3 linked regions of the Homo sapiens genome follow. The gene in region 2 interacts genetically with the main gene of each other region. Each region holds a gene or a part of one and is shown on either strand. Other genes may lie near its edges. The genes, in order: EGFR, FARSB and LEO1.

The links.
Region 1: changes in FARSB (region 2) and EGFR together harm fitness more than expected from each alone (negative genetic interaction), as found in Homo sapiens cells (one large-scale study listed by BioGRID).
Region 3: changes in FARSB (region 2) and LEO1 together harm fitness more than expected from each alone (negative genetic interaction), as found in Homo sapiens cells (one large-scale study listed by BioGRID).

The regions. Positions count from the first base shown.
Region 1 is NC_000007.14:55,200,505-55,204,162, reverse strand, and holds part of EGFR (epidermal growth factor receptor isoform a precursor), read right to left. Parts: intron 2,976-3,658; coding exon 2,808-2,975; intron 2,429-2,807; coding exon 2,381-2,428; intron 1,647-2,380; coding exon 1,538-1,646; coding exon of another isoform or gene 1,398-1,537; exon of another isoform or gene 1,087-1,397; intron 1-1,086. UniProt on the Homo sapiens protein: Receptor tyrosine kinase binding ligands of the EGF family and activating several signaling cascades to convert extracellular cues into appropriate cellular responses.
Region 2 is NC_000002.12:222,646,021-222,649,678, forward strand, and holds part of FARSB (phenylalanine--tRNA ligase beta subunit), read right to left. Parts: intron 2,776-3,658; coding exon 2,720-2,775; intron 2,106-2,719; exon of another isoform or gene 1,821-2,105; intron 977-1,820; exon of another isoform or gene 781-976; intron 327-780; exon of another isoform or gene 1-326.
Region 3 is NC_000015.10:51,965,221-51,968,878, forward strand, and holds part of LEO1 (RNA polymerase-associated protein LEO1), read right to left. Parts: intron 1,285-3,658; coding exon 529-1,284; intron 1-528. UniProt on the Homo sapiens protein: Component of the PAF1 complex (PAF1C) which has multiple functions during transcription by RNA polymerase II and is implicated in regulation of development and maintenance of embryonic stem cell pluripotency.

The sequences.
Region 1 (3,658 bases), on a different chromosome or scaffold from region 2:
GTGTGTAGTTGGTGTGTGTAGTTGGTGTGTAAAGAGGTATATCATCTGCCTTAACTTGCATTTTTCTAATAGCTTATAATATTGATAATCTGTTTATATTATATTAGATAGCCAATAAACTATATATTAGATATTACACTAACATATATATAACTTACATATGTTATATATCTAAATCTTTATATACATATAACATATGTATAAAGATTTCTACATATTTTTATATATAAAGATTTTGATATATATGACATAGATATTAGATAGCTAATAAACTACATATTAGATATATAGATATTAGATATTACATCAACATATATATAACATATGTTTTATATATATCTAAATCTTTATACATGTGTGTGTGGGGTGTGGGTGTGTATATGCACATACATATGTGTATGTGGTGTGTTAATGTGTGTTTCTGTGGTGTGTGTGGTGTGTCTACGTGTGTGTATGTGTGGTGCGTGTATGTGTGGTGTGTGTGGTGTGTGTATGTGTGTGTGTGGTGTGTGGTGTGTGTGTGTATGTGTGGTGTAGTGTGTATATGTTTGTATGTGTGTGCGGTTTTTGTGGTGTGTGTGTGGCGTATGTGTGTGTGGTGTGTGTATGTGTGGTGTGTGTGGTGTATGTGTACGTGTGTATGTAATGGTGTGTGTAGTGTATATGTGTCTGTGTGTATGTATGTGTGGTGTGTGTGTATGTGTGCATACATGTCTGTAGTGTGTGTACGTGTCTGTGTTGTGTGTTGTGTGTACGTGTGTGTGGTGTGTCTGTATGTATGTGTGGTGTGTATGTATGCATGGTGTATGTGTGTATATATGTGTGTATACGTGTGTGTATGTGGTGTGTGTGGTGTGTATATGTGTATGTGTGTGGGGTTTTTGTGGTGTATGTGTGGTGTGTGTATGTGTGTATACATGTATGTGTGTGTGGTGTGTATGTATTTGAGGTGTGTGTGTATATGTGTGTGCATGTGTATGTGTCTGTGTATGGTATGTGTGTGGTGTCTGTGTATGTGTGTGGTGTGTGTATATGTGTGTATGTGTATGTGTGTGTATATGTGTGTGTGTTAGCAGGTTATGAGTATCTGGATAAAGCTTAAAATTTATTAATATTAACTAATATTTAATTAGTTAAATATACGTTTCACAGGTCAAGATAGAGCCAGCAGAGAGAACAGGGATCAAATCTGTCACAAACACACACATACACACACACACATACACAGATGTACACACATCATGAACACTCACACACACAGATGTGTATGTCCGTGATTTGCTTCATAAGCTAGAAATTTTGCAGATTCATTCTTACAACAGAGGTACAGCAAACAACCAGACACAACAAAGAGCTTGTGCAGGCTCGGTCATGTGTTTATCTGCTCCTTACGCCCTTCACTGTGTCTGCAAATCTGCCACTGTTTCCCCCTCTGGAGATGCTGGAGGGAGCACCTGGCTTGGACACTGGAGACTGGCTGCTGCTGAGTGGGTCGAGGAGGTTGAGGAGCAGGACTGTTTCCAGACAAGCCACTCACCAGGCACTGGGAGGAAGGTGTCGTCTATGCTGTCCTCAGTCAAGGCGCCTGTGGGGTCTGAGCTGTATCGCTGCAAGAAGCTGTCTTCCTTGATGGGACAGCTTTGCAGCTGCAGGAGGAAATGAGGGAAGGTTACTCCGGTCAGGGCTGCCCCAACTTCAGTGTTTGCAAAAATCACCCGAGATCTCCTTGAGATGCTGGTTCTGATTAGTAGGTTGGGCAGGCCTGAGAGTCTGCACCCTGGTGGGTGCTGGTGCTACTGGGCCACAGGCTGCAGGGTGGGCAGCAGGGCTGTGCTGGGTGCTGTACAGCAGAACTTTCCGCAGTGAGGGAGGTGTGCTATGAGCGGTGCTCTTCAATACGGTCACCACTAGCCACGTGTGGCTACTGGACACTTCACATGTGTGAGAAACTGAATTTTATATTTTATTTCATTTTAACTCATTAACATTTAAGTTGAAGTAGCCACATGTGGCTAGTGGTTTCTGCATGGCACAGTGCGGTCTAGACCACGGCCTCACACTTCAACAGACATCAGCATCACCTGGAAAGTGGCTCAAACATAGACTACTGGGTGCCACCCCCAGAGGTCCTGATTTGGTCAAACTGGGGCAGTGGCCTGAAAAATGGCGTTTCTAACAAGGCCAGGCGATGCTACTACTGGTCCAGGAGTCACGCTTTGAACGGCACTGTGAGGCGTGACAGCCGTGCAGGGAAAAACCCACACAGGAAGAAAACTCAAGATTATCTGGGTTAAAATTATTTAGGTTAAGGCATTTTCCATGTAAAATAGAGCCATAGTGGAGAGCTGTAAATTCTGGCTTATAAGGTGTTCATACATACCCCATTTCTATCAATGCAAGCCACGGTGGAATTGTTGCTGGTTGCACTCTGAAAAAGAAACAGAGAAGTTGCCCATGGAATGCTTGTACCACATCTCATCCACTTTTCCTGAATGCAGGTGGTGTGCCTCATGGAGGGTATATTGTGAAGGTGTTTAATTTTTGTCTTAATCGTTAGTTTTAGAGCAACTAGGTTTAGTTTTGATTTAATTACATTCCATAGTGGACCTAAAAGGCTTACAATCAAGTTGTTGCAATGCAACAAAATAATTAATACACTTAATTTATTTTGATTTTGATTTTACCATTTGGTTAAAATTGACTTCATATCCATGTGAGTTTCACTAGATGGTTATTTTCCCTAAAATTCAATTTGTTCAAATGAGTAGACACAGCTTGAGAGAGAGAGAGAGACAGAGATTTCATACCAGAGAGCTCAGGAGGGGAGTCCGTGACGTGGAGGGGCTGCTGAAGAAGCCCTGCTGTGGGATGAGGTACTCGTCGGCATCCACCACGTCGTCCATGTCTTCTTCATCCATCAGGGCACGGTAGAAGTTGGAGTCTGTAGGACTTGGCAAATGCATTCTTTCATCCCCCTGGTGCAGAGATTTTGAGGCTATTAGAATGGCCCGTAGAGATGCTATTCCACTTCTTGGCTATAGGAGCAGGGGTCTATTGCCAGCAGGTGCCTGTGTGTTTGCCAATTTTGTTATAATGAAATCCCCCTTGGTTCTCTAAATTATAGCTGCCTCCCCTCATGACATGATGTGGGTGCCTTAAAATAAAACATGAACCATCCTTTGATGCTTGAAAGCCCCTACATGAGATTCAAATAGCTTCTGAGGAAACAGAAAGGGAAGAAGCTGCAGCATTCATCGAGTGTGCACCTTGCTGTGAGGTGTTAGGGAGCGTATTTTGCAACATATTTTATTGAATCTTTGAGACAATCCTGTGAGCTTGGTTTTGGTATTCCTGTGTTATGGAAGGAGATAGGTGGATCGGCTGCCTGGGTGATGCGAAGAAGTGGAGAGTCAGGGGTGTGAAGCCACGTCTGCCTGACACCAAAGCCCAATAGACCATGCTTCTCTCTTAGACCCAGCTGAGGCTTTGGCTAGCCGGACAGTGAGGACGAGCACCAGAGGAGAGTTCAGACGGGGAGGGGGAGATGGAGTTGGGTGGGCCCCACTCACGGATGCTGCTTAGTTCACGATGTGGCCTGCGCCTTACTGAGGCTTGCTCTAATGCGCTGGAGGGTTTAATAATGCGATCTGGGACACAG
Region 2 (3,658 bases):
TCTATCATTCAAATTATAAAAGGAAACCTCATTCATTTCACAGTCTAAAAAAATGCCAATCTTACTAGGTGTTACTTTTGGCAGCAGAATAATTTCCTTATGGCCCAATACAATATAATTATTCCGACTAGATTACCAAATTCTCCATAATCCATCCTGTACTAAAATTGGTTGACTCTTCCTCCTTGTGGGAGGAGAGTCACTACAGACACCAAGAATCCATTCAGGCATGTCTTTAACTTCTACTTCCCGGTACTGCCTGCCACAATTTTATCCCTTAGAACCCAGAACAGCTGGGAGCAGATAAAATCTTCTTGGGTTATGAGGTAAGTTTTGTGTTGTATTTCCATATCGCACAGTTTTTCTATCTTCTGAGACTATAAGTTTACGATGTGCTGCTTCAGGATCTAGAATTACATCTACTTGAAATCGCTTGATAATTTTGTTTTGGCCACAATATTGTGGAGACAGATGGTAACCATATTCTTTTAATTTGAATAAAAAAGGTTTAGGGAATTTTAAATTCTTATGTCTGTGATAGATATCCTTAACATCAGCCAGTAATTCCAGTTCTGACTTCACATATATGCTCTCTATCTTCTTTAGTAGATATTTTAATGAGGAGGTATAATCTGAAAATTTTGTTAGGCTTTCATTTAGTTGTGCTAAAATATCCATCTCGTCATCTTGTAATTGCCCAAAAACAGTCTCTTGCTCATTTTGCAGAAATAACCTAAGTTGCTCAAATTCAGACTTGACTTCTTCTGCCGTATGTTTTACCTTTTTCTTCAGTTCCAGTGATTTTCTGGTTTGTATAGTTATGACTTTTTCAATTAGTTCCACTCTCTCCTTCCACGGTGCATTGTATTGCTCCAGTTTTTTCCTGATAGGAGGCAGCCTTCTTTATGGGCCAAACACAGCGATGCTGGTGATCAGTGGACAAACTGCACCTTGGACATAAAAGCTCTAGGTCTTTCTGAGAGAAGAAAGTCAAAACCTGATTATGCTTCTTACACACATGCTTCTCTTCCTGCCTCTTCCTCTTGCTTCTTAGCTGGAGTTGCTTAGCAATTTCAGTCAAACTACCCAGCTGGGGATTGCTTATAAATTTCCTTTCTGGACAGCACAAGTGGCAAAAGGGGCAGGGGAAACTATCATCTAGATCCTTCCAGGACATAATGATGCAGGAGAGACAGAAGTTATGCCCACAGCTGATGGTCACTGGGTCTTTCAAGTAGTCCAGACAGATGGGACAGCTAGCCTCTGCTCGGAGGTCAGCCAGGGCTGTCACAAATTCTACGGAGCCTGGAACAAAGATGGTAGGTAAGGTAATTCTTTTATTTTAGCAAGGCCTAGCTCTCTAGAGCTCAAGACCCACTATGCAGTGGATTCCTCCCCAGACCTTGAAATCTGACCAGCTTTCAGTTTTACTGACTTGGCATGTTGATGGCAGCTTCTAGAAACTTGTTAAGCCCTCAGCTCCTTAGCTTCAGACTTCACAGCCTGCAGCCTATTGCATATTAGAACTTATTAGCTGGGCTGCTGCTCTTCCCACTAAATGAAATAAAGTCAAGTTTTCTTCAAGAAAGCAGCCTCAGGTCCAAGATAAGGACTCCTTCCTGTAATCCCAGCTACTCAGGAGGCTGAGGCAGGAGAATCGCCTGAACCCAAGAGGAGGAGGTTGTGGTGAGCCAAGATCGCGCTGTCGCACTCCAGCCTGGGCAACAGAGTGAAACTATATAAAGCACATTGGGCCAGGCATGGTGGCTCACACCTGTAATCTCAGCACTTTGGGAGGCCAAAGCAGTGGATCACTTGAGGTCAGCAGTTCGAGAACCAGCCTGGCCAACATGGTAAAACCTCGTCTCTCCTTGCATTATAATCACCTGGAGGGCTTGGTAAAAGGTTGCTTGGGCCACATCCCCAGTTTCTGGTTCAGTAGGGCTGGTTTTTTCCTAAGTTCCCAGATGATGCTGCTGGCCTGCGGACTGTACTTTGTGAACTTATGCTGGAGCAGATGGATCAGAAACCCCGGCCAGAGGATGCTCAGGACCCATCAAGCCCCCGCGAGGAAGGACTCAGACCCCCAACCCCACCAAATTAAAGTATGTCTTTAATAGATAATCATTATTAACAATATTAAAATGTATAGCCGACTTGATTTTTTTAAATATTGTAATCATTATACAATCAAAAGTCAAAGAAAATGCTTCCTCATTTTTATAAGCAAGTCCTTAAAAAATATTAGTTCATTTTACAAGACCAATGAATATAGTAATGCATTAGTACTGGTTGAAGAGGCACGGAGGAAGGTTATGGGGGCAGAGGAGCTGAAGGAGGAGGCGCTGGAAGTGAAGGAGGCAGGGTAACTCTGGTTGAAGCAACATTTCTACTGCTTCTTGGTCCCTTTCTGTGATTAATTTGCCAAAGGAGGGAGCTTACTTTCATACTGGGGTTATCTAACACATTCTATCCATTTCCACAGCATGAGCCTGGTAACAAGGTGATTGTAGATGGAATAAGGCATGAACTCCTTTTGAGATTTTAGTCAAGGCAACAGACAGACATGGAGCTTAGCCCTCTGAACACAGAAATCATGGCCCACAAACATTATCACCTTAGTCTAACTATAAGGTAACAAAGATGAAATACAGTATAACCCTGAAAAATAAGCTTATGCACACAATCTTTGAAAAATAGACAAATATCCAATACATACAATTTCATCAAGCTCCAGACCAAATTCAAAACATAGTTCATCAAATTCTTCGTCAGCTAGGAAAATAAAAAAGGAGATGGTTAATTTCACTCTGTTCAGTATAAGTGAAAACTACATACAAACTGCATTTTCTTATTACTAATTGCCTTACACCAATCATACTACTAAATATCAGGCATCACATATTATCATTTAAAAACAAACAGGCCAGGCATGGTGGCTCATGCCTGTAATCCCAGCACTTTGGGAGGCCAATGTGTGTGGATCATCTGAGGTCAGGAGTTTGAAACCAGCCTGGCCAACACGGTGAAACCCTGTCTCTACTAAAAATACAAAATTAGCCAGGCATGGTGGCGCATGCCTGTAATCCCAGCTACTTGGGAGGCTGAGGCAGGAGAATTGCTTGAACCTGGGAGGCAGAGGTTGCAGTGAGCCGAGATCATGACATTGCACTCCAGCCTGGCTGACAAGAGCGAGACTCCGTCTCAAAAAATTAAAAAAAAAAAAAAAAAAAAAAAAAGCTGGGCCAAAAAAATTTAAGATAAAAAAAAGAAAAAACTATTAAAGGCTTGATTAATCTACACTAATATCAACTGTAGTTTAGGTTACCTGCACTGGGAAGTTTGCATGTACACAGAAGAAAAACACCTGTTCACCTGTTAAGTAGAGATCAGATATAAAGTAGGCTCCAAATCACAGATCTCACACAACAGAATGTCACATAAGTCCTATCAGGTAAAATGGTCTGAGGTGGCCTGACACTTTTGGCTTTGAAGCCAAGTCAATCAGAGTTTGAATTCTATCCCACTTATTAGATCTGAGAGTTTGGCACCTTATGTAAACTTTCTTGGTATCTTGTGTCAACATTACAGCTGCCTCATCTATAAAATGGTATTTCACAGCCATTATGGCATGGTACTATTGGAAAGATTTAAATGC
Region 3 (3,658 bases), on a different chromosome or scaffold from region 2:
ACATTAATATCTTGTAAATTTGACTAGTTTGAGTAAACTCCTTAGAGCTTGACCATCTCTGGATGATCAAATTTTGGATCTCAAAAAGCTGAGCTGCAGCAATGGTGCCCACATCTCAGTACAGCTGCTCTGTGGGGACACTTCAATGGTATGGTTTTTTTCCCCAGGCTAATCTATTCTCTCACATGAGGCATGCTCTTCAGTTATCCACAGAAATGGAATCAACTTAACTCATTATCAGCTCTTCTTACACCATATCCCTCCCTCTAAGACTCAATTTTAAGTCCTCTTTAAATTGTTTTCCCCCAGACCTATCCATTAACAAATGGAAGGGAAAGGAGTAAGAAAGAATAAGTGGATTAGAAAGATTTAAAAGAAGCAAAATGTATTCTAGAGTTAGAAAAGTTTGAAAGGGAGGGGACAGAAGAGAAAAAACAGGGTAATAAAGATGGGAATAAAGACTAAATGGGTCCCTGCTGTATCTGAATGCTTCTTTCTGAGCCATTCTGGTTCTCATAAATGTATTACCTGATTTATGATCCTGTTCCTCTTCATCATCTGAATGCCTGTGTTCTTCATCTGAGGCCTGTGGCCTTTCATCATCAGAATTTTGCATTTTCTCTTCATCAGACAGCTGTGGTTGTTCTTCATCATCAGAATTCTGTTTCTCATCATCATTATCAGAAGCTACCGGCCGTTCATCATCAGAATTAGCCTTTTCCTCCTCAGATAGCTGTTGTCTCTCATCATCGGAAAGCTGAGGCCTCTCCTCATCATCTGTGTTCTGCATTTTCTCATCATCGTCAGAATTCTGCAGCTTATCTTCATCAGATCCTTGTGCCCTCTCCTCATCATCAGAATTTTGTATCTTTTCATCATCTGACTGGTCACTTTTATCTTCTCTGCCCCATTTTTCATCATCTGAATGTGCTTTTTCAGAACCTTCTGCTTCTGAATGATGGCTCCCTCCATCCGATCTATGACCTTCGTCTTCATCATCATTAGGGGCTTCTGATCCACTGTGCTGATCTACATCTGAGGGGTCATTGTCCTCATGGTCAGAACGCTCAGAAGCTTCTGATCTATTGTCTGATCTTTCAGAGTGATTATCACTACCACTATGATGTGAAGCTCCCTCGTCCTCACTGTCATCTCCAAACAGTTCCTTATTACTTGGTTGTCCTGAATCACCTCTTTCATCCTGATCACTTTCACTTCCAGAGGCATTACTGCCAGAGGCAGCATTCTCTTGATCAGAATCTGAGTCAGATCCAGAATCAGAATCTATGGGGTCATATAAACATAGGATAACATAAGCAAAAAAAGGCAGAGTAAGGCAGTCCCAAAGTCCATCCCAACATAAAAGCAATGAAGAAACTGGCAAAAACTGTTAGAATTAACATTCTAAGGCCGGGTGCAGTGGCTCACGCCTGTAATCCCAGCACTTTGGGAAGCCGAGGCAGGCAGATCACCTGAGGTCAGGAGTTCGAGACCAGCCTGACAAACATAGCGAAACCCTGTCTCTACTAAAAATACAAAATTTAGCCAGGCATGGTTGCACATGCCTGTAATCCCAGCTACTCAGGAGGCTGAGACAGGAGAATCACTTGAACCCGGGAGGCAGAAGTTGCAGTGAGCGGAGATCAAGCCACTGCACTCCAGCCTGGGCGACAGAGTGAGACTTTGTCTCAAAGAAAAAAAAGAAAAAGAAAAAGAAAAATATATTTACTAAAATCAAAGAGTCACTAGAGGGGCTCAACCAAAGATTTGAGCAGGAAAAAGAAAGAATCAGTAAACTTGAAGATACCTCAGTTCGACTGTCCAATCTGAGAAACAGAAAGAAAAAAGAATAAAGAGAAAGGAACGGAGTCTAGAAGATTTATGGGACACCTTAAGTTATACCAATGTATGCATAATGGAGTCTCAGAAGAAGAGAAATGAGCAGAAAAAGATTCTTAAATAATAGCTGAGGCCAGGCATGGTGGTTCACACCTGTAATCCCAGCACTTTGGGAGGCCAAGGCGGGCAGATCACTTGAGGTCAGGAGTTCGAGACCAGGCTGGCCAACATGGCAAAACCCCATCTCTACTAAAAATACAAAAGTTAGCCAGGTATGGTGGCGCAAGCCTGTAATCCCAGCTACTTGAGAGGCTGAAACAGGAAAATCGCTTGGATCCAGGAGGTGGAGGTTGCAGTGAGCCGAGACCACACCATTGCACTCTAGCCTGAGTGACAAAGCGAGACTCTGTCTCAAAAGAATAAATAAATGATAGCTGAAGAACTCCCAAATTTATGAAAAATATAGATCTACACATCCAACAAGTTCAACAAATGACAAGTAGGATAAACTTACAGAGGTTTACACCTAGAAACATTGTTATCAGACTGTCAAAGACAAAGAAACAATTCCAAAAGCGGGCAAAAGAGAAGCAGTTCATCCCATATGAGGAACGCTCAATAAGAGTAACAGCTGATTTTTCATCAGAAACCAAGGAATCCCAGAGCCATCCATAAGAGGACACATTCAAAGTGCTAAAAAGAAAGACTGTCAACCAAGAATTTTATATTCAGTAAAATTATGCTTCAAAAACTAAGACGATATGGAAGACAAAAGAAAACATAAATTGGACTTCCACAAAATGAAAAACTTTTGTGCAGCAAAGGACGTTATTAAGAAAGTAGGCCCGGCGCAGTGGCTCATGCCTGTAATCCCAACACTTTGGGAAGCCAAGGTGGCTGGATCACCTGAGGTCAGGAGTTTGAGATCAGCCTGGCCAACATGGTGAAACCCCATCTCTACTAAAAATACAAAAATTAGCCAGGCATGGTGGCTTACGCCTGTGAGCCCACTACTTGGGAGGCTGAGGCAGGACAATCGCTTGAACCCAGGAGATGGAGGTTGCAGTGAGCCAAGATCATAGCACTGCACTCCAGCCTGGGCAACAGACCAAGACTCCATCTCAAATAAATAAATAAATACATAATATTGCTAAGTTAAGTTCAAAACTGGTTAATGTCTTAGAGGACAATAAAATCTTTTGGCTGGGTGCGGTGGCTCATGCCTGTAATCTCAGCACTCTAGGAGCCCAAGGTGGGAAGATCACCTGAGGTCAGGAGTTCCAGACCAGCCTGACCAACATGGTGAAACCCTGTCTACTAAAAATACAAAAATTAGCTGGGCATGGGGGCACACGCCTGTAATCCCAGCTACTGGGAATAATGAGGCATAAGAATCCCTTAAACCTAGGAAGCGGAGGTTGCAGTGAGCCGAGATCGTGCCACTGCATGAAAGGGGAGACTCTGTCTCCAAAAAAAAAAAGTAAGTGAAGGCCAGGCGCAGTGGCTCACGCCTGTAATCCCAGCACTTTGGGAGGCTGAGGTGGGTGGATCACGAGGTCAGGAGTTTGAGAACAGCCTGGCCAATATGGTGAAACCCCATCTCTACTAAAAATACAAAAATTAGCCAGGCGTGGTGGTGCATGCCTGTAGTCCCAGCTACTTGGGAGGCTGAAGCAGAATAATCACTTGAACCCAGAAGGCGGAGGTTGCTGTAAGCCGAGATTGCGCCACTGCACTCCAGCCTGGGCGACAGAGCAAGACTCCGTCTCAAAAAAAAAAAGGAAAGTGAAAAAACAACCTACAGAATGGAAGAAAATAT